Homo sapiens: one gene and its partner. The protein of the gene in region 1 interacts with the protein of each later gene in a pairwise test. Each region holds a gene or a part of one and is shown on either strand. Other genes may lie near its edges. The genes, in order: AATF and MNS1.

What was found.
Region 2: the proteins of AATF (region 1) and MNS1 interact in binary tests that used the Homo sapiens proteins (3 or more experiments, as listed by UniProt).

Annotation. Positions count from the first base shown.
Region 1 is NC_000017.11:36,948,472-36,964,252, reverse strand, and holds the start of AATF (protein AATF), read right to left. Parts: upstream 15,300-15,781; 5' UTR 15,128-15,299; coding exon 15,037-15,127; intron 14,040-15,036; coding exon 13,848-14,039; intron 11,368-13,847; coding exon 10,957-11,367; intron 10,484-10,956; coding exon 10,346-10,483; intron 1-10,345. UniProt on the Homo sapiens protein: Part of the small subunit (SSU) processome, first precursor of the small eukaryotic ribosomal subunit.
Region 2 is NC_000015.10:56,436,122-56,451,902, forward strand, and holds part of MNS1 (meiosis-specific nuclear structural protein 1), read right to left. Parts: intron 10,823-15,781; coding exon 10,720-10,822; intron 9,763-10,719; exon of another isoform or gene 9,550-9,762; intron 8,553-9,549; coding exon 8,323-8,552; intron 7,734-8,322; coding exon 7,517-7,733; intron 7,417-7,516; coding exon 7,309-7,416; intron 1-7,308. UniProt on the Homo sapiens protein: Microtubule inner protein (MIP) part of the dynein-decorated doublet microtubules (DMTs) in cilia axoneme, which is required for motile cilia beating.

The DNA of each region.
Region 1 (15,781 bases):
CAATTTCCCCCTCTCTGCTGGGTCACTCCTATCAACATGCAAACACGCTGATACTTCACCTTAAAAAAAAAAAAAAAAAAAAGCAAAACACCCCTCTTTTGACCACATCCTTCACCATCCAATGCCCCATTTCTCTGCTCCCCTTTAAAGCAACAACCCTTCAAAGAGTTGCCTATACTTTACTATTTCATTTTCCCCATTCTCTTTTTTTGTTTCTTTTTTAAAATTAATTTTTAAAAATTGAGACAGGGTCTCACTGTGTTGCCCAGGCTGGTCCTGAACTCCTGGGCTCAAGTGATCTGCCCATCTTGGCCTCCCAAAGTGCTAGGGTTACAGGCGTGAGCCACTGTGCCCAGCCACTCCATTCTCTCTTAAACCCATTCCAGTCAAGCCTGTAAGCCTACTAGCCTGCCAAACTCCATCAAGGTCAAGGATGCCCACCATGTTGCTAGATAAGTCAGTTCTCAATCCCCATCTTACTTCCATTAGCAGCAGTCTCACCTTTCATATCAGAGAATAAATAAATCAAGACAGAGATATAAAGAAATTATCTAAAGTTACAGAAGTAAAACAAATAAAATGAGACTGAATGTCAGTCAAAGGAGTACTGTCTTCCTGAAGGCTTCTGTATATTTATCTTACTCCTGTGTGATTTTAAAAAAACAATTTAAGAACAGGTTTTAAGACATAAACAATAGAGTATCATCTTATGCAGCAGTTGGGTTCTAAAGTCTAAGCATAAAGCAAAAAATCAAGTTTTGACAAAACCACTTTGAAAATCCCTTATATTGTACATAATGTGTGGCATTGTGCTATCTTTCAATAAGTTCAACACAGCCAGTCTTTCCCCTCTAACATTAGCCCATACAGCACTTTGTCAATTAAACACAGATGATTCAATTTAGGGACCGTCCTGTACAAAGACTGCATGTTGTAACTTTAAGCACTAGATTGATATTCTGTTGATCGATGCTCACTAAAGAGGTACCCAAGAACAAAAAATAACCAAGGCAATAAAAGAATCCACCTGCCATCTCATGCATACCCTACGCTCACTGAATAAAGTGGCAGGCAGAATTATTGGCACTATATAAACAGTTTCTCTCTCCTTGGTTTTTGTTTTGTTTTGTTTTGTTTGAGACAGAGTTTTGCTCTTGTCAGGCTGGAGTGCAATGGTGCGATCTTGGCTCACTGCAATCTCCACCTCCCGGGTTCAAGCGATTCTCCTGCCTCAGCCTCCCGAGTAGCTGGGATTACAAGCATCCGCCACCACTCCCGGCTCATTTTTTGTATTTTTAATAGAGAGGGGATTTCACCATGTTGAACTGGTCTCGAACACCTGACCTCAGGTGATTCGCCTGCCTCGGCCTCCCAAAGTACTGGGATTACAGGCATGAGCCACAGTGCCCAGCCTCTCCCTCTTTTTCTTTTGGCCAGGCACATATAGTTACGTTTGAGTTAATTAAATGTACATATAAAGAGGTTCCATTGTGCAATGATATGTACAACTTCACCATGAATATAGTGACACAGTGATCCTACTATGGAGCTACTAGCTACTCCAAGTCAGGGCTACTTTCTTATCTAACTCATTACTATTAAAAATTATTTTTCTGAGCTACTCTGGGCCACTCTGCCTATGGGATAGCCCTGCTCTGTCTATGGAGCAGTCAAAAAAAAAAAAAAATTGTTTCTGATGCTGAAGACAACTCTCACTCCTAAGAAACCCAACCCCAAAACAGTGAAATGCATTTTCTAGCTAGATTGGTATCAGTAGTTTTTAAGCTGCCCTTAGCTCACACAGGTCTGTGACCCATTTAGGGCTTATACTCTTAGGGTAGGTAGAATCAGTGCATAAGAATCTGACACTCCCCTCCTCATTCCACCACTTGGTGACTTTGGAAAAGTTCTTGCTCTGTGATCCAGCTTTACTCTCTACATTATATAAATGCCTAATTAACTAAGTTGGACAAAGTAGTAGCTCAAAAGGGACAAAAAGTCTTCCTACACAGAACTCACTCTCTAATAAATAGATAAAACACTGCATATGTTATTTCAGTGCTAACAGGTATTATGTAAATACCAAACAGAAACTTATCAAGAAATGATTGCCTTCATTTCCCACCTACAGTTTAGCAAAAAGAAGATCAATAATACCTAGTGGAGGCAGGAGTGTAGGAAAACAACTGTTACAGATGAGAATTTAAATTGTTACAATTCTTCCAGGGGCTAGTTAGGCAATATATTCCAAAAGCCTTTTTAAAAAAACAATGTACAAGGCCCAGCACCGTGGCTCACGCCTGTAATCCCAGCACTTTGGGAGGCTGAGACAGGCAGATTACCTGAGGTCAGGAGTTCAAAACCAGCCTGGCCAACACAGTGAAACCCAGTCTCTACCAAAAACACAAAAATTAGCCAGGCACGGTGGTGGATGCCTGTAATCCCAGCTACTCAGGAGGCTGAGGCAGGAGAATTGCTTAAACCCGGCGGGGCAGAGGTTGCAGTGAGCCGAGATCCTGCCATTGCACTCCAGCCTGGGCGACAAGAGTGAAAACTCTGTCTCCAAAAAAAAAAAAAATCAATGTACAAGTCCTTTGTCCCAGCAACTACATTTCCAGGGAATATAGATCTGGGCAATATGATACAGTATCCACTAGCTACACGTGGCTACTAAGCACTCAAAATGTGTCTAGTCCCAATTGAGATGAACTGTGATTATAGAATATACTCTGGATTTCAAAGACTTAACATGAAAAAAGGAATGTAAAATATCTCATTAAGATTTTTATATTGATCACATATTGAAATTATAATATCTTTGATATATTGGGTTCAATATGTCTAAAATTAATTTTAACTGTTTCTTTTTTAAAATGTGGTTATTAAAAAATTTTAAATTACATGTGGCTTGCATTATATTTCTACTGGACAGTGCTATTTTTAGACAAACTGCACAAATATGTATGTACAAGGATGTTTATTAAAGCATGTTTTATACAAGTGAATAGCTAGAATAAACCTAAGCACCCATCAATACAGATTGGTTAACTAAATTGCAGTAAATCTATAAAAAGGAATACTTCAACTCCTAAAAATGCTGATGTACATCTAAATATACTGACATGAAATATTAAGTAGGAAAAATAAGCTTGAAAATAGTACATACTTATATGATTCCATTTTCTGTTTTAAAAAGTGTGTGGTGTGTGTGTGTGTGCACGCGAAAAGGTCTGGAAGGATATTCATCAAAATGACAACTATGGTTATCTCTGGGCAGTAGGATTACAGCTAATCCTTATTTTCTTCTTTATGCTTCTATGTATTTTCCGATCTTTGAAATAAGCATGACATACTTTTATAATTAGAACACTGAAGCTATTTTAAAAAATGATAGCCATCAGCTGAAGCAAAAAGATCAATCTTACTCACATCATCTTGGCTAGATGAAGTCTGCAGCAATAAGGGTCCTTAAGCCTACACAATGTTACAATTAGAGGGGGTTGCAAGTGCCTTTATCCCAAGCAATACTTAAACCCATCCCAAGTAATTAAAAATATTTCAAGGTTCTACAGAACATTGTGAGAACTTTGCCAAGAACCCATAAAGTGTTAACTGAGAGAACTCCGAAATAATCATTTATGGATTTGTCACCTAAGGCAACTAAGTAATTTAAAAGGGGGGGATTTCAGTGATAAAATTGGTTGCCTGTGGGACAGGGTACTGGGCGGCAGGGGTACAGGATTATCACTGTATATATAGTCTTTAGTATTTTTGAATTTTGAACTATGTGAATGTACTGCCTACTTAAAAATAAGTAAAACTTTAAAAACAAAACATTATCAAGACTCCATGATTTCCCACAGCTTACGCAAAATTTAAAACATTATTATTTAAGGTATCTATTATTGCTGAGGACAAATTACCATTAAAAATTTTAGTCTAGCCGGGTGCAGTGGCTCATGCCTGTAATCCCAGCACTTTGGGAGGCCGAGGCGGGTGGATCTTGAGGTCAGGAGTTCAAGACCGGCCTGGCCAATATGGTGAAACCTCGTCTCTACTACAAATACAAAAATTAGCTGGGCGTGGTGCTGCATGCCTGTACTCCCTGCTACTCCGGAGGCTGAGGCAGGAGAATCACTTAAACCCGGGAGGCAGAGGTTGCAGTGAGCCAAGGTCGCACCACTGCACTCCAGCCTCGGCGACAGAGCAAGACTCCATCTCGGGGGGGGAAAAAAATTTTAGTCTAGTCAAGTCAAAATAATTGGGGCTTTTGGGCAAGGACCACAAAGATATGAGAGTGTAAGTATGAAATGGGAAGATAACAGGGTGCAAACAAAATATAATTTATTAATAGTGAAATCTGTTTTCATACTCTTAGGAAAGTAAAAAATCTTAATACTTTCTCTGTATTTATATTACATTATGCTGTGTTCTTGGATGTTTTGCTTACGGGAAATATCAAAATGACAACCATTGTTTCTATTAAAGGTCTTTAATGATATTGCATTTTAGACCTGTAATGAAACATGGTGCTCACTGCAGTTTGTAATGCATCTCATTAAATACATTAATAACATGCATTGCACTAAAAGGTCAACTTATTATGACTGAAGTTTAGCTTTCCTTTAATCACTTCATTTAAAGCTATAGAGCAAACTCTGAAAAAGACAGTAGAGTACCCGTTACAGAAATACTCTCTAGGACCTTTTGCCTTAAAGAAAAGAAAAAAAACAAAAAAGACATTTACTTACAATTTTCCCACCCATCCAAATCAGTCATGTTTTTTGTTTGTTGGTTTGTTTGTTTTCTTGAGACAGACTCTCGCTCTGTCACCCAGGCTGGAGTGCAATGGCATGATCTCTGCTCACTGTAACCTCTGCCTCCTGGGTTCAAGCAATTCTCCCACCTCAGCCTCCTGAGTAGATGGGATTACAGGAACCCACCATCATGCCTGGCTAATTTTTGTACTTTTGTAGAGACGGTGTTTCATTATGTTGGCCAGGCTGGTCTTGAACTCCGGACCTCAGGTGATCTGCCCACCTTGGCCTCCCAAAGTGCTGGGATTACAGGCATGAGCCACCACACCCAGTCTGTATGTTTGTTTTTTTTGAGACGGAGTTTTGCTCGTTGCCCAGGCTGGAGTGCAGTGGCGCAATCTCGCCTCACTGCGACCTCCACCTCCCGAGTTTAAGAGATTTTCCTGTTTGGCCTCCTGAATAGCTGGAATTACAGGTGCCCGCCACCACACCCAGCTAATTTTTTGTATTTTCAGTAGAGACGGGGTTTCATAATGTTGGTCAGGTTGGCCTCGAACTCCTGACCTCAGGTGATCCACCTGTCTTGGCCTCCCAAAGTGCTAGGATTACAGGCATGAGCCACCACACCAGGCCAGTTATGTTTATTAAGAAATTACTGTTAATGTTTTTACATGAGATTATGGTATAATTTTTTAAAATCCTTATCTTTTGAACATACATGCTGAAAATTTTACTGATGAGAGAATGTGTATTATTTGCTTCAAAATAATCCAGAAGGTGAGCAGAGTTGGTACAACTACAGATGAAATAAGATTGACCATGAATTGATTATTGCTTAAGCTGGTGAAGGCATGTGGGGGTTCACTGTGCTATTTCTCTACTTTTATATAAGTTTGATATATCCCATAATGAAAAGTTTTAAATAACTCATGGTGAGATTTCCTTAAGTAACTTCCCTTCTTCCTTACATATCATTGCCACCAACATAAAAGATGTATTTCCTAATACAGTAGAAATTCTAAAAGAGAGAAGGCCAGGCACAGTGGCTCATACCTGTAAGCCCAGCACTTTGAGAGGCCAAGGTGGGTGGATCACAAGATCAGGAGTTTAGGACCAGCCTGGCCAACATGGTGAAACCCCATCTCTACTAAAAAAAATTACAAAAATTAGCCGGGTGTGGTGGCATGCGCCTGTAGTCCCAGCTACCCAGGAGGCAGAGACAGGAGAATCGCTTGAACCTGGGAGGCAGAAGTTGCAGTGAGTTGAGATCGCACCACTGCACTCCAGCCTGGGTGACAGAGAGAGACTCCATCTCAAAAAAAAAAGAAAAAAAAGAAAGAGAGAAAAAGCAAACCCTTTTAGAGAAATGGTTTTGTGCACAGAAAATCCCTTAATTTTGTTAAGATTACTCCATGACTTACCACTTATGCAGCCACTAAAATATCAGACGATGTCTTTGAAATCACTTCCACAGTTCAAGTTTAAATTACCAACATGTAACACCAAGGTGACTGGGGACTAAGTTTACGTGTTTGGGGTGGTGTGTGGAGAGGAAGGAGATATTCATTTAGTTTCTGAAAAGTAGAGTTTAGGGTGCTGAAGCTACAAAGGCATGGTACTCAGGAGTTTACTGGAGCTAGAATACAGCTGGAAGTCTGTTATTTTAGAGGCAATAGTTAGGGTTATCAGAGTAAGTGACAGTGCCAAGGAGAGACTATATTGAGAAAACGCAACCTGAGGACAGGATTCTAAACGGAATGAAATTTACATTGAGAGGATACAAAAGGAACCAGAGAAGAGATCAGAAAGGTAGGAGAACCCAAACAGCACAGGTAGTGTCACCAAGCCAAAGAAAAGTATTTCAAGGAAAAGTTAAACGCTTCAAGGAGGTAGTAGCTGGGTATAGCAATAAGGAAATCTGTAGCCATCTTTCCATAGCGTCGTAAGAGGCCAACACTGCATTGTAAGTATTAGTAAACTATAACACTTTCCAGAACAATTAGTTAATTTAAATTATATAAAGAATCCAAATACTAATAAAAAAGTAAAAAACACTGAAGACTAGTGAGGCTCAGTTACACTGATAACTATTGAGTGATTGCTCACATGGTCGAACACTGCCAAATGCCTCTTTGAGCAGAAAAAGATAATATTAGTACCTAACATTCATGGTGAGATGTGTGCCAGACACTGTGCTAATGCTTTCTATTGATTATGTCCTTTAATCCTCACAACCATATTATCCCCATTTTACTGTGAAGTTAAGTAACTTGCCCAAGGTCACATGGCTAATCCATTGCTGAGATGAAATCTAAACCAAGCCGGTCTGACTTTAACTACTCTGTAAGACCAAGCAAATTGAAAAGAGATTTAATTAAAGACAGTAAGTTCCAGTGGTTGTTCTGGGGTTGGTACAAATTCAGCCTATGTTCCACACCAGCTATACAGCACAGTAATAAATTGGTCATCCAGAGTAATGTGCTCAAGAATTTTCTCTCTCTCTCTCTTTTTTTTTTCGGGGGGGACAGTTTCGCTCTTGTCGCTCAGGCTAGAGTGCACTAGCACGATCTCAGCTCACTACAACCTTTGCTCCCGGGTTCAAGTGATTCTCCTGCCTCAACCTCCCAAGTAGCTGGGACTACAAGTGTGTACCACCATACCTGGCTAATATTTTTATTTTTATTAAAGATGGGATTTCACCACGTTGGCTAGGCTGGTCTCAAACTCTTGACCTAAAGTGATCCGCCTGCCTCAGCCTCCCAAAGTGCTGGGATTATAAGCGGGAGCCACCGTGCCCGGCCAAGAACTTTTTTTTTTTTTTTGAGACGGAGTTTCACTCTTGTTGCCCAGGCTGGAGTGCAATGGCACAATCTTGGCTCGCTGCAGCCTCCGCCTCACAGGTTCAAGCAATTCTCCTGCCTCAGCCTCCCGAGTAGCTGAGATTACAGGCACCTGCCACCACACTTGGCTAATTTTTGTATTTTCAGTAGAGACGGGGTTTCACCACATTGGCCAGGCTGGGCTCAAACTTCTGACCTCAGGTGATCAGCCCACCTCGGCCTCCCAAAGTGCTGGCATTACAGGCGTGAGCCACTGCACCCGGCCAAGAATTTTTTTCTTAAAGTCTGTTTATCAAGACAGGGGAGTATACAACATATTATGTCATATTGCCACAAGAAAAATTAGCTACTCTTCAAATGCACAGCTCATTACTTGAAAACTCCCTACCCTCCCACCTTAGAATATGTGATACCAAACTTCCTTTCTTCTCCCTCCTCCACCACAACCCACCCTGTCAGATTAATAGATGCTGTCAGATTAATTGAGGTTCATCAATGAGGTAAAGGCAATTGGTTAAGTACAAAAAAGAGTAAAAAGATCAGAACAAAATAAAAGTTAAATAACACTGCAGTGATTAAAGACACTAAATGAGTTGAGTATGGTGGCTCACACCTGTAATCCCAGCATTTTGGGGAGGCTGACACGGAAGGATCATTTGAAACCAGGAGTTTTGAGACCAGCCTGGTCAACATAGTGAGACCCTATTTCCACAAAAAAAGAAAAAATTAGTCGGGCATGGTGGCTCATGCCTGTAGTACCAGCTACTCAGGAGGCTGAGGCGGGAAGATCACTTGAACCCAAGAGTTCGAAGCTGCAACGAGCTATGATCACGCTACTGCACTCCAGCCTGGGCAACAGAGCAAGACCCTGTCTCATAACAAAAAGAAATTAAATCGTATCCAAGAATATGTGTCCATTATACTGGACACTGACTAACCCCTAAAATATCTATATTTAAATATGAATTTTTTAAAATGAAAAAGGCTCAAGCAAAAAGAATAATGAGTAACAAAATGAAAACAGGCCTTATCGTGAAACATTTAAAACATTTAATCTAGAGCAGTCTAGGTCTCATTCCAAAGGCATACCAGGAATTAGGGTACTAGGACACTAAAAATAGCAGAGAAGTGCTCCAAAAATCTCAAAAAACTTGAAAACCATCAATCTGTCATCTATTTGAGAGAGAAAGGAGGCAAAGACAGGGGCGGGGATATAAATGGCCCACCTCACCCACACAGGCCACGTAAGGCTCCTGGGAAGGACTGCCCAGACTTCCCACAGGGGAAGAAGCAGACTTTAAGTGTGGCGGGACACAAAACCCAAAAACTGGACTCTAGGAAGCCATTCCTAATTACATCAGGTATTCACCTACAAGAAACGTTCACTGAACTCCCTACCTGGGAAATCCTACACATTGATCTTGAATGTCTTAAGGCGGTTCTACCTACAGGCAGATGCCAAATTAGATATCCTCCTCAGGTCCCTTCCAACTCTAACTCCATGATACTAAAAAAATAAGTTTTAAAGAGCAAATGAAAACATGAAGTCTCAGCATGCAAGTAAGACATATTGATCTCAGCTGAGCGCAGAGGCTCATGCCTGTAATCCCAACACTTTGGGAGGCCAAGGCCTCCCAAATATATATATAGAGAGATAGATACATAATCTATACATATATATCTATATCTATGGATATAGATATCTCTTTCATGAGGACTCTGAATATCTAGATATAGATATATACAGATCCCAAACACAGCACACTCACCCTAAATCTCCCTCTGCCCCAGTCCTTCAGTGCCACTGGGCACACAGGCAAGCAGCACACAGGAGGCAGTGTGGTGCAGAGGGAAGATTCCTACATCATAAGGTAGAAAAGTTGGAGCCTCATCTCCGCCATACACAAATAAGCTCTGCAACTTTGGGCAAGTCATTCTGGGTCTTAATTCTCTCATGTGTAAAATGAAGACATTGGGAACCAAATAGTCTCTCAATTCCTTTTCCTCTTCTAGAATTCTTTATAGCTCAGTAATTCTCCTCTAAAATGTGTTTCTCCCTCGGCATATCATCTTTCCTCACTCTATGTCACTCAAAGAAAGATATAAATAAGATCATCTTAGCACATTGTTCTAAAAACCTCTCAAACATAGGAAGCATCTTTTAAACACATGATACAACCAAGTTTAATGAGCTGAATTAGACATTCTTTTTCTCCCTTTCTACATCAGTGGGTTTTCAACCAGTGTCCCCTGAGCTTTAAAGAATTAACTCAGGGCCAGGCTCAGTAGGTCACATCTGTAATCCTAGCACTTTGGGAAGCAAAGGTGGGAGGATTGCTTGAGGCCAGGAGTTTGAGACCAGCCTGGACAACACAGTGAGACCCTGTCTCTACAAAATATCCCTCTCTACAGGCAGGGTGGTGCACGCTTGTGGTCCCTGCTACTCGGAAGGCTAAGGTGGGAGGATCACTGAGGTGGGAGGATTGCTTGAGCCCAGGAGGACGAGGCTGCAGTAACCTGTGATCGCGCCACTGTACTTGAGACTCAGCAACAGAGCGAGACTCTGTCTCAAAAAAAAAAAAAAAAAAAAGCAACTTGGAAAGCCAAGGGGGATGGGGAGGGGAGAGCAAGGGCAGATGAGAAGAAAGCACAATAAACATGGCTCAAGCTCCCAGTCCACTTCAATCAAAGCTGTCTTCATTTGACAAAGTGGTTCTAAGTATTCCAACAGGACATAAGTATTCTTACTATTTTTCAGGGCACTGGAAAATTCTGGGCCACCTTTGTCCTTGAACAATGGGAAAACATCTGGTTGAGGAAGCTGGTTGGTGGTCAACAGAGCTTTTTGTAGTTTGATCCTTCCTTCCAAGAGCTGGTCCCACAGTGCTGAAAAGAAGAAAAGAGAATCCCATTCCTCAATAATAAAATATTCTGGGGGTGAGGTGGCAGGGGTGGGGAAGAACAGGAAACCACACCAGTCTCTAAGCACCACAGCTTTAGCAGTTTAATGCCATGGAAACAAATATTCTCTATTAGAGAAAATAAATTCAGTATCCATGAAGCAAGTATTTGCTACAGCAGAGTGGGAATGCTAAAACCCAAGGAGAGGAGAAAACACTCTTCTCTTCAATCTTCCCCAGTTGCAGGAAGTACTAGAGCAGAACCAGCTAAGCAGATCAGTGCAGAAATGGCTGGCTAAGCATACAGGAATAGGGCTTTAGGCTTCTGGGTAAGTGGGGCATGTCACAAACTAATTGAAAGGACACAGGAGATAGAGAATAGCCAAAAACAAACAAATGAAAAGTAGACCAAATGCAGATACTTTGAAAAACAGGCAATCAGCAAAACCATGTACAAACCTATCTGGTTCTTCACGGCTCTTCCTTTCTCCACTTCCTCAGAAACTTTGACACTAGAGAAGGTCATCACCACACCATCATCCTCACTGTTTCTATCTCCAGCCCTGTCTTCCTCACTCTCGCCTTGGGAGTCTTCCGCGTCATCCCCTTCTTCCATGCCACTCTCTTCGTCTTCCTCCTCCTCACTGCTCCCAAGGTCATCCATTCCCTTGGTAAATTTCTCAAAGTCACTGATACTCTGGACACTGAAGCCCGGTGTTTTTGCAGAGTGGCTTCTGCTCTTCTTGCTCTCCCTGTGATCACCACACTCCTGTTCCTCAGCAGCACCCAGGTCGTCCTCATCATATTCCTCCAGACCCAGTCCCTCTGAATCTTCATCTCCAGACCCTTCCTCATCAGATATTTCCTCATCTACAAAGAAGAGAGGGAAGAAAGAGAAAAATGGGTATTACCTGGAGAAAATACCAAGCCATAGACTTCATTTCAACTTAAGCACTGTGGCATCAGGGGGAAAATCTCTTACTGCACTCAATTCAACAATATATTTATTACACATCTACAATCTCCAAAATGCTAAGGGAGAAGCAAAGATGAATAGAACACGGGTCCTACCCTAACAAAAGGAGCTAGTGGGAAAGACAGACTCACAACATTACAACTCAAGGAAGCATCAGAAGTGCTTTGACAAAATTTCAATAACCCAGAAGAGTGAGAAATTTTAACTGTGGGGCAAGTGAATTTAAGCTAATCTCTAAGGAAGAGCTAGCATTTGCTCTGGCCCTTGAAGAACAGTAAGATTTCAACTGGTGTTAGAGAATTACCAGTTTTCCCAAACCTGATCTGAAAAAATGTACAATCTATCACATCCGTCTGCCCTATTTACTAAATACTTATTAAGCACTCATTATGAGCCAGGGGCTAAGGAAAGGCAAATAGAATTTAATACTTGCTGGGAGGAGTTCATGGTCTGGTGGGAGTGGTAGATATGCATGCCAATAATTATATTACAAGGTCATTAGTACACAGTGTATGGAGATGGAACCACCTAACTCTCCTGGAAAGGTGGGGGATGGTATCATGTGGAGAAGGAGACATTATAATTTTACTTATGAAGCATAAGGCAACAGCTCATAGATAATGAAGGGAAAACGCACTGGAGTGCAGGATGCACAAGGAAGTGATGGGAGATGAGACTAATCAGGAAAGGTCTCGTCTTTCATGAGGACTCTGAACTTGATCCTATAGTAGACAGAGTGCTAGTTAAGGCTCTTTGTTTGACTTATGCTTAGAGTATCATCTGATATGTAGAGGTTTTTACAGTTTATCCAATCTGTTCCATGGTAGAACATAAAAGCCCCATGTGTTTCAAGTATGATTCTAAGATAGAGGGACCAGTTTCCAAAAACTTTCTTCAATAAAATAAAGATTTTAGGAAAGCGTGACAGGTCTTCAGCGCTTCTTTAAAAAGGTATATATAAACTTAAGACACAAAGCTGCCAAAAATATAAATACAAAAACTAAGTGCCAAAACAGTAAACAGAAATTATTATTTAAATTCTTTGAATGTACGCCATTTCTCAGATTAAGAAACATTCATACAGAGTTTACTAGAGTGTACATCTTGGAGTCAGACAGCCTACATTTGAATCATGTTTCTTCCACTTACTAACTATATGACCTTGAGCAAACTTATGTAACCAATTTGCCCCTCGATTTCCTTATCTGTAAAATGGGGCTAAGTAGTAATAACTTCCTGCGCAATTGGGAGGATTAAATTAGGTGACACATGTAGTGATAATGGTGATAATTTTTTATAAAAATCTGTCTAATTCCAGGTAATTTTATAATTTTTTTTTTGAGGACTTACTGTGTCCCAGGCTCTTAGAACTTAAATTATAGAGCTAAACTCAGTGCCTGACGCATGGTAAGAACTCAATAAATATTATCATATTTGTCTCATGATTGGTCCCTTTATCAGTCTCTAGGCAAAGAATATGAAATGAGCTTATCAGGAGCTCCCAGAACTACATCAAGGACTAAATCATAGATATCATAACCTAAATGATAGTTCCTTTTATATTATCTGTGGATTCTCAACATGACACCCCTGACCTTTCTAAAGGAAAACAAATGACATTCTCCCAATAATCACCATATCTAGCCCCTTCTTCCACTCTGAGAAATTTACAATTCTTTAAAACTATAAGCGCACAGACTCCTAACTCTTTTGCAGGGAAGAGAAGGATTATGTGATTTTTTAGAATGGCAAAAAATGAGTTTCACAAATAACTAATATCACACAGTGCTTCAATGCAAGTCCTGGAAAACCAAAGGTCAGGGGTCACAATTCAAGGATAACATGTTCATCAGACACAGTGGTTTTTCAGCTCATAACCCTCTCCAGTAGCCAAAATGCACTGCCTTCTCTGTCACTCCACTGTAGGGTGAGCCATTAGTCCGAACATAAGGAGTATAGCAACTTAATCACTCTGGGCTTTAGATTCCTTATGAAGTGAAATGAAGTAACCTCTAAGACCCTTTCTAATACCAAATCAATGGTCTCTCCTAAGATAACAGATAGGGGTGCCTGACCAACATGGACAAACCCCGTCTCTACTAAAAATACAAAATTAGCCGGGCGTGGTGGTGCATGCCTGTAATCCCAGCTACTCGGGAGGCTGAGGCAGGAGCCTCGCTTGAACTCCAGAGGTGGAGGTTGCGGTGAGCCGAGATGGCGCCATCACACTCCAGCCTGGGCAACAAGAGCCAAACTCTGTCTCAAAAAAAAGATCCGCAGACTACTCTTGCAAAGATCATGGGGGATGACCGGAGGATTTTAACCCTGAAAAAATTAGGGAAGAGAAGAGTTCCATTCAAAAATGTCTACTCACCAGACGATCCTGGCAGAGTCTGCTCCCAATGGTCTTCATTCCATGCTTTTCTAGAGGTGGTTTTGCCGCAATACCTTTTGTCCGTGTCCAAGAGGGAGGCTGATGCCAGTTTTCTAATGCTACCCACTACTAGGAAATCACCTTCCCCATCTTCCCCTTCATCAAACCTGTCAATCACCCTGGCAGCAGTGGCTGTCGGGGGAGAGGGAAAAGTAAACAGAATCTCCAGGTTAGCAGAAACTTTAACGGGAACCCTGGTCGACCCATTTATCTCATAGTTGAACGTCCTTTACGAAATCCCCACCAACTTCCAGGAATAGGAAATTCACTCTCTCCCAAAGTAGAACACTGTCTTACTGCTGTTTCTAAACAGAAAGTTGACTCCTGGCATCTACTAGTGGGATCTATTTCTATGACTTGGATCCTATCAAACTAGTTGAATTCCTCTTCAATGTGTGACAGTCGCTCCAATATCTTAAATCAGTCATCACGTTCTCCCCTCACTCTGTCCCATTCTTTGGGGAGTTTTCTTTGCTTATTCTGGCTAAACAGTCCCGAGTTTCTTCAACTGATCTTCCTAAGATACGGTTCAGCACTCGCATTTATCCCTCCTTATTATCCCTTTCTCACACTTCCGACTCAAGTCTAAAGCGGGATTACTCCCAGCTAGACTCTGAACATCAGCTTACAGAACAGGAGTCTCAGTCGTCAGCCACTGAACAAGTGTCTTGAGACTTCAAGAGACTTAAACAGCACCAGAAAATCCTTCCATCAGTCTCCAACTTAGTTTTGAAGGGCAACCTGAATTAAAAACATGCGACTTTCTTCTCCTCCTTTCTAACGCAATACCAGAAAGGGCATCCTCAAAGCTAACTTCCAACTTGCTAGCAGACTCTCTGGCTCCCTCCAACAGGCCTGGAGCAAGTAAACCTGAAGACCAGCTCCTCTCGGCCTGAGCCCTCGATCTGTTCCGCCCATCCAGCCGAGCACCAAGTTTCGAGTGCGTGTGAAAAGAAGCCGAAGCCCTCCTCCCGAGGCCGGGACCACCCTCGCGGGAGGCGACGTTCCTCTGCGCCAAGCGAAGGAGCGCAGGCCCGGCGGCCTCGCGCACGCCCCTCCCACGCCGCCCCCTTGCCCCACAGGGCCTGGCCCACCGCTCCGCACGTGGCCTGCCCCAGTCCGGCCTCACCTTCCTCGGGGTCCGCTTCAGGGTCCGCCTCGCTTGGTCGCGGGTTCAACAACTGTTCCAGTTGCAGCGCCAGGGGCTGCGGCCCCGCCATCGTCACCAGCTCCCGGTCCACTCCGCTTCGCGCACGTAAATGTGCGGCCCAACCCCCGGCCCCGAAGCTCCTTCCCTGCCGGATCCTCTCGCCTTGATCCGATTCCCCGACTCCGCCAGAGACCGCGCGGAGGCCACCCCACAGCTCTGGACCGGCCACTTCCGGGAGGCGCGCGGGAGGGGGCGGGGCCTGCGCGTCACTGCGGGCGTTGCTAGCATGAAGGCGGAAGCGCGCAGAAGGTTGAAGGGATTGGAGCCGTATGGGCGCGTGTGCGCGTGCGCGTGCGAGTGCGCGGGAAGGGGCGGTGCGGAAGCGCGCCAAGGCACGTGACCGCTTCTGTCGCTGAGATGCGATTGCGATGCGCGCGGCCAGTGTCCCCTTGTACAAAATATGCCTCGAGATTTGTGCGAGATTCGCTTAGGAATAAAGCATAGCGTAGCCGTGGCCCACGGTGGCTGATTTGGGAAGGAGGAGGGAGTAGGGCTTAAGCTGCTCGAATCGCGGGTGCGCACTCGGGCACGCAGAGACTGGGACCCAAAGCAGGTTTGTCATTTCGCAATTTATAGTAGTCTGAGGCCGGGCACACGCCTCCCGCCCTTCAGCGGCCAGGATTTGGGAATCCTATGTCAGGGATATGCACGTGTAAGTGTGTGG
Region 2 (15,781 bases), on another chromosome or scaffold:
GAACTCTCCAGCCCAAATCAACAGAATATACATTCTTCTCAGCACCACACCGCACTTATTCCAAAGTTGACCACATAGTTGGAAGTAAAGCACTCCTCAGCAAATGTAAAAGAACAGAAATTATAACAAACTGTCTCTCAGACCACAGTGCAATCAAACTAGAACTCAGGATTAAGAAACTCACTCAAAACCGCTCAGCTACATGGAAAGTGAACAACCTGCTCCTGAATGACTACTGGATGCATAACGAAATGAAGGCAGAAATAAAGATGTTCTTTGAAACCAATGAGAACAAAGACACAACATACCAGAATCTCTGGGACACATTTAAAGCAGTGTGTAGAGGGAAATTTATAGCACTAAATGCCCACAAGAAAAATCAGGAAAGATCTAAAATTGACACCCTAACATCACAATTAAAAGAACTAGAGAACCAAGAGCAAACACATTCAAAAGCTAGCAGAAGGCAAGAAATAACTAAGATCAGAGCAGAACTGAAGGAGATAGAGACACAAAAAACCCTTCAAAAAATCAGTGAATCCAGGAGCTGGTTTTCTGAGAAGATCAACAAAATTGATAGACCGCTAGCAAGACTCATAACAAAGAAAAGAGAGAAGAATCAAATAGACGCAATAAAAAATGATAAAGGGGATATCACCACAGATCCAACGGAAATACTACCATCAGAGAATACTATAAACACCTCTACGCAAATAAACTAGAAAATCTAGAAGAAATGGATAAATTCCTGGACACATACACCCTCCCAAGACTAAGCTGGGAAGAAGTTGAATCCCTGAATAGACCAATAACAGGCTCTGAAATTGAGGCAATAATTAATAGCCTACCAACCAAAAAAAGTCCAGGACCAGATGGATTCACAGCCGAATTCTACCAGAGGTACAAGGAGGAGCTGGTATCATTCCTTCTGAAACTATTCCAATCAATAGAAAAAGAGGGAATCCTCCCTAACTCATTTTATGAGGCCAGCAGCATCCTGATACTTTGGTCGTCTGTCATCCTGACAGAGACACCACAAAAAAAAGAGAATTTAAGACCAATATCCCTGATGAACATTGATGCAAAACTCCGCAATAAAATACTGGCAAACCAAATCCAGCAGCACATCAAAAAGCTTATCCACCATGATCAAGTGGGCTTCATCCCTGGAAGGCAAGGCTATTTCAACATACACAAATCAATAAATGTAATCCAGCATATAAACAGAACCAATGACAAAAAACACATGATTATCTCAATAGATGCAAAAAAGGCCCTTGACAAAATTCAACAGCCCTTCTTGCTAAAAACTCTCAATAAATTAGGTGTTGATGGGACATATCTCAAAATAATAAGAGCTATTTATGACAAACCCACAGCCAATATCATACTGAATGGGCAAAAACTGGAAGCATTCCCTTTGAAAACTGGCACAAGACAGGGATGCCCTCTCTCACCACTCCTATTCAACATAGTGTTGGAAGTTCTGGCCAGGGCAGTCAGGCAGGAGAAAGAAAGAAAGGGTATTCAATTAGGAAAAGAGGAAGTCAAATTGTCCTTGTTTGCAGATGACATGATTGTATATTTAGAAAACCCCATTGTCTCAGCCCCAAATCTCCTTAAGCTGATAAGCAACTTCAGCAAAGTCTCAGGATACAAAATCAATGTACAAAAATCACAAGCATTCTTATACACCAATAACAGACAGACAGAGAGCCAAATCATGAGTGAACTCGATTCACAATTGCTTCAAAGAGAATAAAATACCTAGGAATCCAACTTACAAGGGATGTGAAGGACCTCTTCAAGGAGAACTGCAAACCACTGCTCAACGAAATAAAAGACGACACAAACAAATGGAAGAACATTCCATGCTCATGGATAGGAAGAATCAATATCGTGAAAATGGCCATACTGCCCAAGGTAATTTACAGATTCAATGCCATCCACATCAAGCTACCAATGACTTTCTTCACAGAATTGGAAAAAACTACTTTAAAATTCATATGGAACCAAAAAAGGGGCCACATTGCCAAGACAATCCTAAGCCAAAAGAACAAAGCTGGAGGCATCATGCTACCTGAATTCAAACTATACTACAAGGCTACAGTAACCAAAACAGCATGGTACTGCTACCAAAACAGAGATATAGACCAATGGAACAGAACAGAGCCCTCAGAAATAGTACCACACATCTACAACCATCTGCTCTTTTTTTTTGTTACAAAAAAGACAGGTTTGTTACAAACCTGACAAAAACAAGCAATAGGGAAAGGAGTCCCTGTTTAATAAATGGTGCTGGAAAAACTGGCTAGCCATAGGTAGAAAGCTGAAACTGGATCCCTTCCTTACACCTTATACAAAAATTAATTCAGGATGGATTAAAGACTTACATGTTAGACCTAAAACCATAAAAACCCTAGAAGAAAACCTAGGCAATACCATTCAGGACATAGGCATGGGCAAGGACTTCATGTCTAAAACACCAAAAGCAATGGCAACAAAAGCCAAAATTGACAAATGGGATCTAATTAAACTAAAGAGCTTCCGCACAGCAAAAGAAACTACCATCAGAGTGAACAGCCAACCTACAGAATGGGAGAAAATTTTTGCAATCTACCCATCTGACCAAGGGGTAATATCCAGAATCTAAAAAGAACTCAAATTTACAAGAAAAAATCAAACAACCCCATCAAAAAGTGGGCGAAGGATATGAATAGACACTTCTCAAAAGAAGACATTTATGCAGCCAACAGACAAGAACAGGAAAGGTGATGTCTACTCTCATCACTCTTCTTCAACATAGCACTAGCCAGTGGTGCTGGAAATTTTAGCCAGCATGTAAGGCAAGGAAAGGAAGTAAAAAGTATACAGATCAGAAAGGAAGAAACAGCCTGTAGCTCTGGGCAGAAGACATGCCTGACTATGTAGGGAAAAAAAATCCTACAGCTAACAAGTGAATTCAGCAAGGTTGTGAGATACAAGATAAACACAAAAATATCAATTCACTAGCAACGAGTACACGGACACCAAAATAAAAGCTAACATTCCATTTACGATTGCTCAAAAAATGAAACACTTAGATGTAACAAAACACGTACAGGATTTGTATGCTGAAACTAGAGAATCCTGATGAAAAAATTCAAAGATCTAAATAAAGGGAGAGCCAAATTGTGTTCATGAACTTAATATAGTGAATTTATCAATTCTCCCCAAACTGATATTCAAATTTAATTCAATACCTATCAAAATCCCAGCAAAAAATATTTATAGAGACAAGATTCTTCAAAAATTCATATGGAAAGGCAAAGGAACTAGAATAGCTAAAAAAAAAATTTTAAGACTTGCCATATAGCTGCAGTATTCAAAACTGTGTAGTATTGGTGGAGGGATGGATACATAGACCAACAGAACAAAATAGAGACCACAGGAATAGACCCATACAAACATGCCAACTGTGTTTTAAGAAAGGTGCAAAAGCAATTCAATGTTGGAGAAACAGCCATTTCAACAAATGGTGTGGAACAACTGAACTAAATCCAATGGCAAAAACTGTATTTAAGTCTCATCGTTTGTACCAAAAATTAACTCAAAACAGATCACAGATTGAAATGTAAAATGGAAAAGCATAAAAAAAAAAAACCCAAAAAAACAAAACACACACACACACACAAACCTTTAGGAAAAAAAAAAGGAGAAATTCTTCAATAACTAGGCGAAGAGTTTCTAGAGTTGACACAGAAAGCATGATCCATAAAAAGAAAAACTGATAAACTGAACTTCATAGAAATGGAGAACATTTGCTCTAAGAAAAATCGTGCTCTAAGATCATGTTAAAAGGATGAGAAGATAAAGCTACAGACTAGAAGAAACTATTTGCTAACCACCCACCTGACAAAGGACTAGTATCTAGAATATATGAAGAACTCTCAAAACCCAACAATAAATGAACAAACAACCCAATTAGAGAATCAGCAAAAGACATGAAGAACTATTTCATCAAAGAGGATCTTACACCAAAGAGGACAGCAAATAAGCACATGAAAAGATGTTCAGCATCATTAGTCATCAGGAAAATGCAAAATAAAACTACAAGGTATCACTACATGGATATTTAAAAGTGGCTAAAATAAAAAATTGTTGAGCTTCTGAGGACAGAGGAGAAAAAAATTAAAAAATAAACTGTGTTAACACCAAATGCTGGTGAGAATGCAGACAGACTGCGTAACTCATATATTTCTGATGGGAATGTTAAATGCTACAGCTGTTCTGGAAATCACTTTGGCAGTCTGTTACACAGCTAACATGCAGTTACCACAAAACCCAGCTAATACAATCTTGAGCATTTATTGCAGAGAAATGAAAATTGATGTTTATACAAAAACCTTTACCTGAATGTTTACATCAGATTTACTCATCAGAGCTAAATATTGGAAGCATTCCAAATGCCCTTTAATGGGCAAATGGTCAAATAAAATGGTATATACATGCCAATGGAATGTTACTCAGCAAAAAAAGGGAACAAATGATCAATACAAGCAACTTGGATGAATTTCCAGGAAATTATGCTGAATAAAAAAAAGCCAACTTGAAAAAGTTACATATTGTTTGATATCATTTATATAACATTCCTGAGGCACATACTTTTAAATTTATAATTAAAGGTTTATCCATGTTTTAGCATGATCAGTCTGTCATTCTTTTAATAGCTGAATAACATTTTATTACATGGATATACTATATTTTGTTTATCCATTAGACATTTGGGTTATTTCTACTTTTGGGTTATTTCTACTTTTAGACTATTGTGAATAATGCTGCATAAACATTTGTGTATGGGTTTGGGTAGACACAGGCTCATTAATTTTTAACCATTCTTTTTTCTAATATATGCATTTAAAGATATAAACTTTCCTCTAAGCACTGCATTAACTGCACGTCACATATTTTGGAATGCTGTTTTTTGAATCATTTAGTTTGAAATATTTTTCTAATTTCCAATATTATTTATTCCCCTTTTCTCATTGCTTATTTAGAAATATATTGTTTAATTATAATATATTTAAGGAGTCTGCAGGTATATTTTCATTACTGATTTTTAATTTAATTCCACTGTAGTCAGAAAACATATCTGGTATTATTTAAAACCTTGAAAATTTATTGAGACTTCCTTTATGTCCTAGAATATGATCTATCTCGGTGAAGGTTCCATGTTTGAATGGAATTTGTGTTCTGCTGTTGTTGGGTGGAGTATTCTCTAAATGTCAGGTCAAGTTTATTGATATTGCTTTCAATACGATATCCTGCGGTTCTGACTACCTAGTCTATAGATTAATGAGAACTGTGCATTGAAATACCATTCTGGACATAGGACCTGGCAAAGATTTCATGATGAAGACTCAAAAAGCAATTGTAACAAAAACAAAAATTGACAAGTGGGACCTAGTTAAACTAAAGAGTTTCTTCACAGGAAATGAAGTTATCAACAGAATAAACAGACAACCTACAGAATGGGAGAAAATATTTGCAAACTATGCATCTGACAAAGGTCTAATATCCATAATATCTAAGGAACGTAAACAAATTAACAACCCTATTTAAAAAATAGACTGGCCAGGCACGGTGGCTCACACCTCTAATCCCAGCACTTTGGGAGGCCAAGGCAGGTGGATCATGAGGTCAGGAGATCGAGACCATCCTGGCTAACACGGTGAAACCCCATCTCTACTAAAAATACAAAAGAAAAAAATTAGCCGGGCATGGTGGCGGGTGCCTGTAGTCCCAGCTACTTGGGAGGCTGAGGCAGGAGAATGGCGTGAACCCGGGAGGCATAGCTTGCAGTGAGCCGAGATCACGCCACTGCACTCCAACCTGGGCGACAGAGCGAGACTCCCATCTCAAAAAATAATAATAAAATAAAATAAATAAATAAAAAGAAAAAATAGGCTAAGTACATGAACAGATACCTCTCAAAAAATGATATATATGTAGCCAACAAGCACATGAAAAAGTGCTCAATATCACTAATCATTAGAGAAATGCAAACCAAAACCACAATGAGATACTATCTCACATCAGTCAGAATGGCTATTAAAGTCACAAAAGAATGGATGCTGACAAGGTTGTGGAGAAAAAGGAATGCTTATACACTGTTGGTGGGAATGTAAACTAGTTCAACCACTGTGAAAAGCACTGTGGCGACTCCCCAAAAAATGAAAACAGAATTACCATTTGATTGCTGGGTTTATACCCAATGGGATTGCTGGGTATATACCCAAAGGAATATAAATCATTTTACCATAATGACACATGCATGTGTGTATTTATAGCAGCACTATTCACAATGGCAAAGATATGGAATCCACCTAGATATCCATCAATGGTGGACTGGATAAATAAAATGTGGTACATGTACACCACGGAATACTACACAGCCATAAAAAAGAACAAAATCATATCCTTTGCGTCAACATGGATGGAGCTGGAGGCCATTAGCCTATGCTAATTAATGCAGGGATAGAAAACCAAATACTACATGTCTTCACATACAAGTAACAGCTAAATATTGAGTACACGTGGACACAAAGAAGGAAAACAGACACTGGGGCCTACTTGAGGGTAGACATAGGAGGAGGGTGAGGATCAATAAACTACCTATCGAGTACTATGCTCATTACTTGGGTGACAAAATAATGTTACACCAAATCCCCATGACCCACAAATTTACCCCTGTAACAAACCAGCACATGTACCTCCTGAACCTAAAGTAAAAGTTGGAAAGAGAAAAAGAAAAAAAAAAAAATCTTGAACTCTGATTGTGGATTTGCCTCTTTCTCCTTTCAGTTTTTGTCAGTTTTGCTTCATGTATTGTGAAGCTTTATTATTTAGGTTCACACGCCTTTAGGACTATGACATCTTCTAGATGAATTTACTGTATTATCATGAATTGCTTGTCCTGAAGTTGACTTTGTCTCATATTAACGTAGCAACTCCAACCTACTTTTGACTAGTGTCTGTATGTTACGTATCTTTCACCATCCTTTTGCTTTTAAAGTATGTATCTTCATTTTTAAATTGTGATTACAGACAACATAGTTGCATCATGCTTTTTATGGTAAGTTTATAAATTGATGCCTGAGTCTATCTTTTTAGCCAGCTTGAAAATTTCTGTCTTTTAACTGTAGTATACCATTTACATATAATGTAATTACCAGTATGGTTGGATTTAAATGTACTATCTCTTTTCTGCTTCATCTCAAAATTATATTCTTCTCTACATTAATCATTCTTTCCATTTCTGAAACTTACTTTTAGCTTGCTCTTATATATTTCAGCTTGTTCTTCCTGGTATAATTCTTGTCGCACTTGTTCCAAATCTTCACGTTGCCGCAGCATTTCTTCTAATTTCTGTGTCAACTATTAAATTTTTTAAAAAACATAAATATTTATAGGATCCAAATTCTGTAACTAATATTTCAGAATTTTACTAGTGTTAAAGAAGTGGTTATTTTAATACCGCATTCTGAAGCTGTAGCCTTTTCTCCTCATTTTCTTGAACTTTTGCCATCCGATCTTCTTCTCTTTGCTGCTGCATGTTAGCAAACTCTATGATTTTTCTGTTTTCTTCTTCCATCTCCTCACGTTTCTTTTTTCTCCAGAGAGCCTGCTCTTTCTGAAACTCTTCTATATACCTTCGCATTGCATTCATTTTTTCTAACTTTTGTTGTTTTTCCCTGAAAAGCAATAACAAGTACAGATTTATAGTAAACAATAAAATATAAAAAAGTAATTTCATTTTGTTCATAATAATGTACAGAAAAACACTATAGTTTTTTCATTCGTGCATGCAACAAACATTTTGAATGCTTACTGTGTGCTAAATATAATGTCAGGTATGAATTTTTCTTTGGGTAGAATACTGTGATAGTCTCCTCTAACCTATTAATGAAGTTTTATGCATCTTATTTCATAAAGGCTACAATCTGTTAACATTAGCTTTGCAGCACTCTATACTTAAGCTGTCTACCAAAAAAATTTATCAGAATACCTGTCCTCTGACATATGATATGGGCATATATAAGAAAAACAAAGGTTTAGGTCATTCAATCACTTCAGCATTTATTAATCATCAGATAATTCATTTATTAATTATGCTAACGGAGATGAGAAGGAGTTGGTCCCAATTTATGTTTTCATAGCTAGTATTTATTGAGCACTTACTATGTATTAGGCACTGTTCTAGGTGCTTCAGTTCCTCACAACAAACCTGTGATATATCTAAAGTAAACATTTAGACATGTAAGAAAGTTAGGATAAACTTACAACTGATCTTCTTCATAGATCTTCCTAACAATTTCATCAATCATGAGTTTCTCTTTTAGCAGCTGCTCATAAGCTTCCTGCTTTTTTTTTTCTTGTTCTTCAAGTTGTTTCTCTAAGTCAAGATAGTACTGTGCTTTCGCTTTGTTTCGTTTGTCTTCTGCAGCATTCTCTTCCTTTATTATTCTCTTGTGTTCTTCCATCATGGTTTTGGCTATTTCAGCATCACGTTTCTGTTATTAAAACAAAATTGATCTTTCCGTTTTCAAATTTGAACATAGTACGATAGTATATTTTACACCAATGTTATTGAATATTATAAAGTCTTTTACATAAAATAAATTTTTTCATCTGTCTAGGTTAAAAAGCAAAAGTAAGTTATTATTACCTGAAGGGTGTGAACAATAAGTCAGACCCTAAAGCAGCTTTCCTATCCCTTCAAGTAGCTCTCTCAGGACAATACCTGATAAGGATTATTAATAACTCCACATTCAAAAAACAATGAATACAATTGTAAGTAGTTTCTTAATAACTATTTAGCTGCTAAAGCAGTCATTATCTTATTATTCTATTTATAAACTGAGCTAGGCAATTTTCATCGTTTTTAGCTTCATTGTTTATCAGCTGCTATTTAAAGATGGTACTGCCTCTTTCTTACAGGTCTGCTATTAAATGGCTTTGAGCAGCTCTTAAGTTTCTCCTAGCCTAAACTTTCTTTCCTGCCATTGGCCCTTGACGTTTCCCCTTTCTGATTTATTAAAGGCCCTTTATCTGAAAAGAATCACAGATGCTACTGTGCCTATTTTCTACAGCTTTTAATTCACTCAAGACCATTCCCATTGTCAAGAGACAATCTTTCTTCTTGGATGGGTTAAACCCCTTATTTCTTTTGAGCATTTTTCAAATCATTTAATAAAATAAGTTTTAAATGAAATATACTGAGGCAATTTTTTAAACTACGCTTTACTTTTATGATCACATCCCGAATGATGGAATGGTCAGCAGCATCAAACATAAAGAGTAAACAGATTAAAATATGAATACTGAATGTCATTCCTGACGTCACTGAAGCCTTTAACATATACTCTGATAATATGACTTGACCAAAAATGTTTCTGATTATCTTCTTTGTACATGCTATACTAAATTCTTTATTAAAAAATGAGATGACAATAACATTTATGTGTAGATTACCACACACTTACCGAAAACAATGTTCTCATTTTACAGATAAGAAAACTAAGGCTCAGAGAAAAAGCCAAAACTAGTACTTGCATGACACCTAGTCAAGTCCTAGTAGTATTCGACTTTCATTTTGTGGATCAATTTTTATTTGGAAAATAGCAGCAATTCTCGTAGGAGTCAGATTAAAACGTCTACAACTACCTTGAATAACTTCAACTATCAGGATAATTAAAACTGCAAACCACTGGACAAACAGGACATTGTTTGTGCTACTTTCTTTTTCAAAGGACAGCGCTATATGGCTTAGCAAATGAAGTCTCTCCACCTTTTCTTATCACCTGCCACACCTAAAGGTATTCCTGTTAACAGCATGCTGTGTACCCGCTAGACATTTTCTATACTAACACAATTGTACACACGCAACACACACATATATGTGTCATTTATGGTATCTATTCTTAATTGATACCCATATTGCACTGCACTGGTTAAGTATTTTGATATCACCCCATAAGAGTGTGTGTGTGTGTACATATGTTTATGTGGACATACACAATAGATATGTATGTGTATATAAACATTCATATATAATTGGCCCTTCTGTTTGATAATGAGAGCTCAAGGGATGATGTGCACCCTTTTAATTAACTGTTAATTCAGTAAACCCTATTATATATTCATACAGCAAAGCACTCCTAGTGAGTATGCCTGAGATTCCTTTGCCCAAGAGTAACTCTTATCTTCAACTTGGTACCATATCAGGAGTTAGAAAAGGGGATAAAAGCAGAGAGAAACATGAGAAAAAGAGATGGCTTTTATAAAACTGGAAAGTTTCCTACATAAAATTATCAAGTAGTTTACTCTTAAAAACATTTAAATAATTAAAAATTTCATAACATTCTAAAATACACTTATCATGGTAACAATTTGTACTGTACTACTTTGTCAGTGAATAATCAGTTAGAGACTATAAAGAATGCTGGGAGTTACTGAATATAGCTGGTCATTCTAAGCAGCAATGTGTTTCTGAAAGGCTCTAATATTAAAAATGAAATCACGCAGGATTTTCTACATCTTAAGGATCTGAAAATTTACAAATATTTAAGAAATCTAGCAGTGTAAATTCTTTATACAATATGACAATTTTTTAAGAAACAAGTCTAATTTTTATTTTCTAAATGAAGCTAAAAACATAATGACCAGAAACATGATTACCATTTGTTCATATTTAATGGCATCCTTTTCAGCAATCTGAGCTGCCCTTTCTTTATTCATGTAAGCTGCTTTTAATTTCTTCTCCAATTCTCTAAGCTCAATGCTGTTTAAAAAAACAAAAACAAATTTAAATGTTAGGACCATAAGAGAATGAAAACCTCACAGAAAACTGAGTAACTGTATTTTTAATTTACTCAAAGAGGGAATACAGCGGGTATTATTTTAGATCCATAGGAGAAATAATTCATTATATTTAATGGATGCCTTTAGGGCATTAGGGCTTACATTTTCTGGTTGAAAAGTACTGCTCTGTTCTATTACATTCATCTGTTTGCTTATCCTGTGTCAATACCACACTATCTCAACTGCTGTAAATTATAATACGTCTACATATCATGGATAAGTCTCCAATTTTGGTCATCTTCTTAGAGACTGTCTTAGCCATTCTTGATACTTTCATTTCCATATACATTTTAGAATCAGCTTGTCAGACTTCACAATAAACAAAACTGGCTGTGATAGTACTGAATTCATAAATCAATTTGGAAAGTACTAATATCTTTACATTACTGAGTCTTCAATAAACATAGTATATCCTTCTAATTATTTGGTTTTTTAAAAGTCTATCGATGTTTATATCTGTGTTTTATTTTGGTAGTTTTATACTTTTCATTAGGTATTTTTCATATCCTTCTGTAGATTATTTTTCAAATCTCACTTTCTAATTGTTGATAATTTACAGAAATACAATTAATGTTTATATACTAAATTTATACCCAACAATATCACTGAATATATTTTTTAGTTTTCAGTTTTACTGATCTACAATATTCAATAAACTGAACATGTTTAAAGGATACAGTTTGATAAGTTTTTACATATGTATGCACCTGTGAAACCATCACCACAATCAAGATCATGAACACGTCCCAATCACTTCCTTATAAACCTGTGGTACCTCTCTTCTACCCCTTTATGTTCGCACTTATCCTGAGGCAAGCTAATTTGCTGTCACCTTAGGCAGTATAAATTTTCTAGAATTCATATAAATGGAATCATAGTGCAGGTACCATTTTTCTCTGGCTTCTTTCACTCAATATTTTCAAATACATCCATTTATTGCATATAGTAATTGCTTACTCCTTTTTATTGCAGGATATTATTTTAAGATTATAGATATCCACTCGCATTGCTTATCTATTCACATGCTGATAGACATTTGAGTTGTTTCAGGTATGTGGATATTGCAAATAAAGCTGCTATGGAAATTTGAGTACCAGTTATTTGTGGTCACAGGCTTTCATTTCTCTTGGATAAATACCTAAGGTGGAATGATCAGGTCATACAGTAGATGCACGTTCAGCGTTTTAAGAAGCTGCCAAACTGTCTACTAAAGTGGTTTTAAGTTTTTATTTCAACTTTTAGATACTGGGGGTACATGTGCAGATTTGTTACATGGGAATATTGTGTGATACTGAGGTTTGGAGTACAGCTCCTGTCACCCAGGCAGTGAGCACAGAATCAAATGGGTTGTTTTTTAACCCACTCCTCCTCCACCCTCTCATAGTTCACAGTGTCTGTTGTTCCCATATATGTCTATGTGTACTCAATGTTTAGCTCCCACCTATAAGTGAGAATATGCAGTATTTGGTTTTCTGTTACTGCGTTAATTTGCTTAGGATAACGGCCTCCAGCTCCATCCATGTTTCTGCAAAGGACATAATTTCATTGTTTTTATGTCTGTAGAGTATTCCGTGGTATATATGTACCACATTTTCTTTACCCAATTTCCCACTGGTGGGCACCTGGATTAATTCCATGTCTTTGCTATTATGAATAGCACAGCAATAAACATATAAATGCATATGCTTTTTTTGGTAGAATGATTTGCTAATTCTTATTTTTAGATTCTTTTTTTTTTTTTTTTTTTGGAGACGGAGTCTCGCTCTGTCATTCAGGCTGGAGTGCAGTGGTGTGATCTCAGCTCACTGCAAGCTCCGCCACCCAGGTTCACGCGATTCTCCTGTCTCAGCCTCCCAGGTAGCTGGGACTACAGGTGTGTGCCACCATGCCCGGTTAATTTTTTGTATTTTGAGTACAGATGGAGTTACACCATGTTGGCTAGGCTGGTTTCAAACTCCTGACCTCAGGTGATCCACCTGCCTTGGCCTTGCAAAGTGCTGGGATTAGAGGCATGAGCCACCACACCCGGCTATTTGTAGATGCTTTTGGATGTTCTACACATACAATCATATCATCTGTGAATAATTAAATTTTTATTCCTTTAATGCCAATCCTAGCACCTGTCTTTGCTTTTTCTTGCCCTATTGCACTGATTAGTATGTATAATACAAAGATGACTAAAAGCTGTCAGAGCAGGCATCCCTGTCTTCTTCTCAGTGTCAGAGGGGAAGTGTTTAACATTTTGCTATTAAGGATAATGTTGCTGTAAATTCCCTTTTATCCCTAGCTTGCTACACTCTTTTTATTAAATCATAGAGTGATGATTCATATCAATGGGCTTTTTCTAATCATATAATTGTTAATAGGATGAATTACATTTACTGATTTTTAAAATGTTAAACCACCTTTGCATTCCTGGAATAAATTAAATTTGGTCAGGATGATTTATCTTTCTTATACAGCACTGGATTTCGTATTGACTAATATTTCAGATTACAGGAGCTAAATTCATGAGAGAGATTAGTCTACAGGTTTCTCATATCGTATTCAGGTAATGATCTGATTAAAACAAATTGGGAAGGGCTTCCTCTTTTTCTGTTTTACAGAACTACATAAGATTGGTGTTACTTTGTCCTGAATGTTTGGTAAAATTCACCTAGCCCTGTAGGTTTATTTGTGGACAAGGTTAAATTACAGATGCAATATCTTTAAAAGTTATAGGAACATTTAGCTATTTCTTCTTGTGCCAATCAGTTTGGTAAAATGTGCTAAGAATTTATCTATTTCATTTACATTTTCAAATTTATTTTCATAAAATTGTTTGCAATATCCTGCTATGGTCCATTAAGTGTTTGTATGCTCTACAGTGATATCACATTATCCATTCCAAAAACTGGTTATTTGTGCATTCTCTTTTACTCTGTCATCCCTACCAAGGGGTCGTCAATTTTATTCACCTTTTTATGGCACAGTTCTTGGCTTTATTTGTTCTACTTTATGTTTATATTCTAACTTACTCATTTCTGCTCTTATCTTTATTATTGCCTTCCTCCTACCTTCTTTTTGTAATCATTCCAGAAGAGAATTTGCAGTTTGTTTTCTAGTAATTCCAGATGGAGTTTTCCTTTCTAATACAGTTATTTCAGATTAAGACCTACCCTTGAGGAACAGCCTTAACTATATGCCACAAGTTGGTTTCTTTTTTTTCAGTCCTATAACATTTTTTATCATGTGAAAATATATGTAACAAAAATTTGCCATCCTAACCATTTTTAAATGTACAACTCAGTGGTGTTAATTACATTCACAGTGTTCTGCAACCATCAACACTATTTCCAAAACTTTTTCATTCCCCCCAAAGAGAAATGCTGCACCTCTTAAACGATAACTCCCCATTCTTCCCTCTCCCTAACCCCTGGAATTCCTAATCTGCATTTTGTCTATTTGCCTATTCTAGATAGTTCACAAAAGTGGAATTATACAAGGAATTGTCCTTTTGTGTCTCGCTTACTTAACATAATGTTTTCAAGGTTCACTAATATTTTAGCATGTATCAGTGCTTCATTTTTTTTTTATAACTGAAGGATATTGTATAATGTATATATACTACACTTCATTTATCCACCCATCTGATGGACATTCAGGTTGTTTCAACATTTTGGTTATTGGAAATAATGCTGCACCAAAAGTTTGTATACAAGTATCCATTTAAGTCTCACTATTGAATTTTTTGTATATTTATGCCTAGGAGTGGAATTGCTGGCTCATATGGTAATCCTTTGTTTAACTTTTTCCCATAGCACCTGCATCATTTTACATTTCTACCAGCAATTTCTGAGGGTTCCAATTTTCCCACTTTCTTGGCAATACCTATTATTTTCCACTACTTTTATTAAAATTGCCTATTAGATGTGAAACAGTTTCTTCTTATGGTTTTGATTTGCATTTCCCTAATGACAAATAATGTTGAGTATATTTTCATGTACTTATCATTCACTCAACATCTTCTTTAGAGAAACGTCTAAGTTCTTTGTTCATTTTTGAACTGGGTTTTTAAAATTATTGAATTGTAAGAGTTCTTTATATATTTCAGATATTAAATCCTTATCAGAGATACAATTTGTTCTTCTGGCCTAAATGAGTTCTGAGTGAGGTAAAACAGATAAGTGCCTTGTGTTAGTTTTTCACGTAGTCCCAAGGTAGGTTAGAACAGATATACCCAACAATTTGTGAATAAGATCTGCTCTGCTCCTCCTGAACCAGGGACCAGGGTCCTGCATTGGGAACAAGGGCTACCTGCCTCTGAGCTAGGAGGGAATGAGGAAAGGGCAAGTGAAGATACCACAGAACTTTACTACCATTTTTAGGCTTTTTCTTGTTTCAGCATTTGCTTGATTGCAATAAACCTTTGAATGCTACCCAAATTTCTTATAAAATTGGTTCTGAGAGTTTCTGCTTGTTTTCTGATGTTTGTAGTCGGGGGATGGGCTGGGAGGAGAGACAGGAGCTGGGAGCTGCCTACTCTGCTATTTTGCTAATATCAGTCCAATCCTGCAACTTTTAGTATGTGGTATTTTCATTATTATTCAGTTAAAAATACTTTCTAATTTCAATTTTGATTATAGACAGTCTCTGATTAATGATGGTTTGACTTTACAATGGTGAGAAAACCATATGCATTCACAGTAGGTTCCTCAATTCATGATGGGATGCATCCCAATAAACCTGTCGTAAATTGAAAATGTAGTTTATTGGGACATGAACCCATCGTACATCAAGGAGCATCTGTACTTTTTGACCAAAGGGTAATGTGAAGCACATTTTTAAATACCTAAGCATATAAAGATTGCCTAGATTTTTTTTTATTACTTACGTCTAG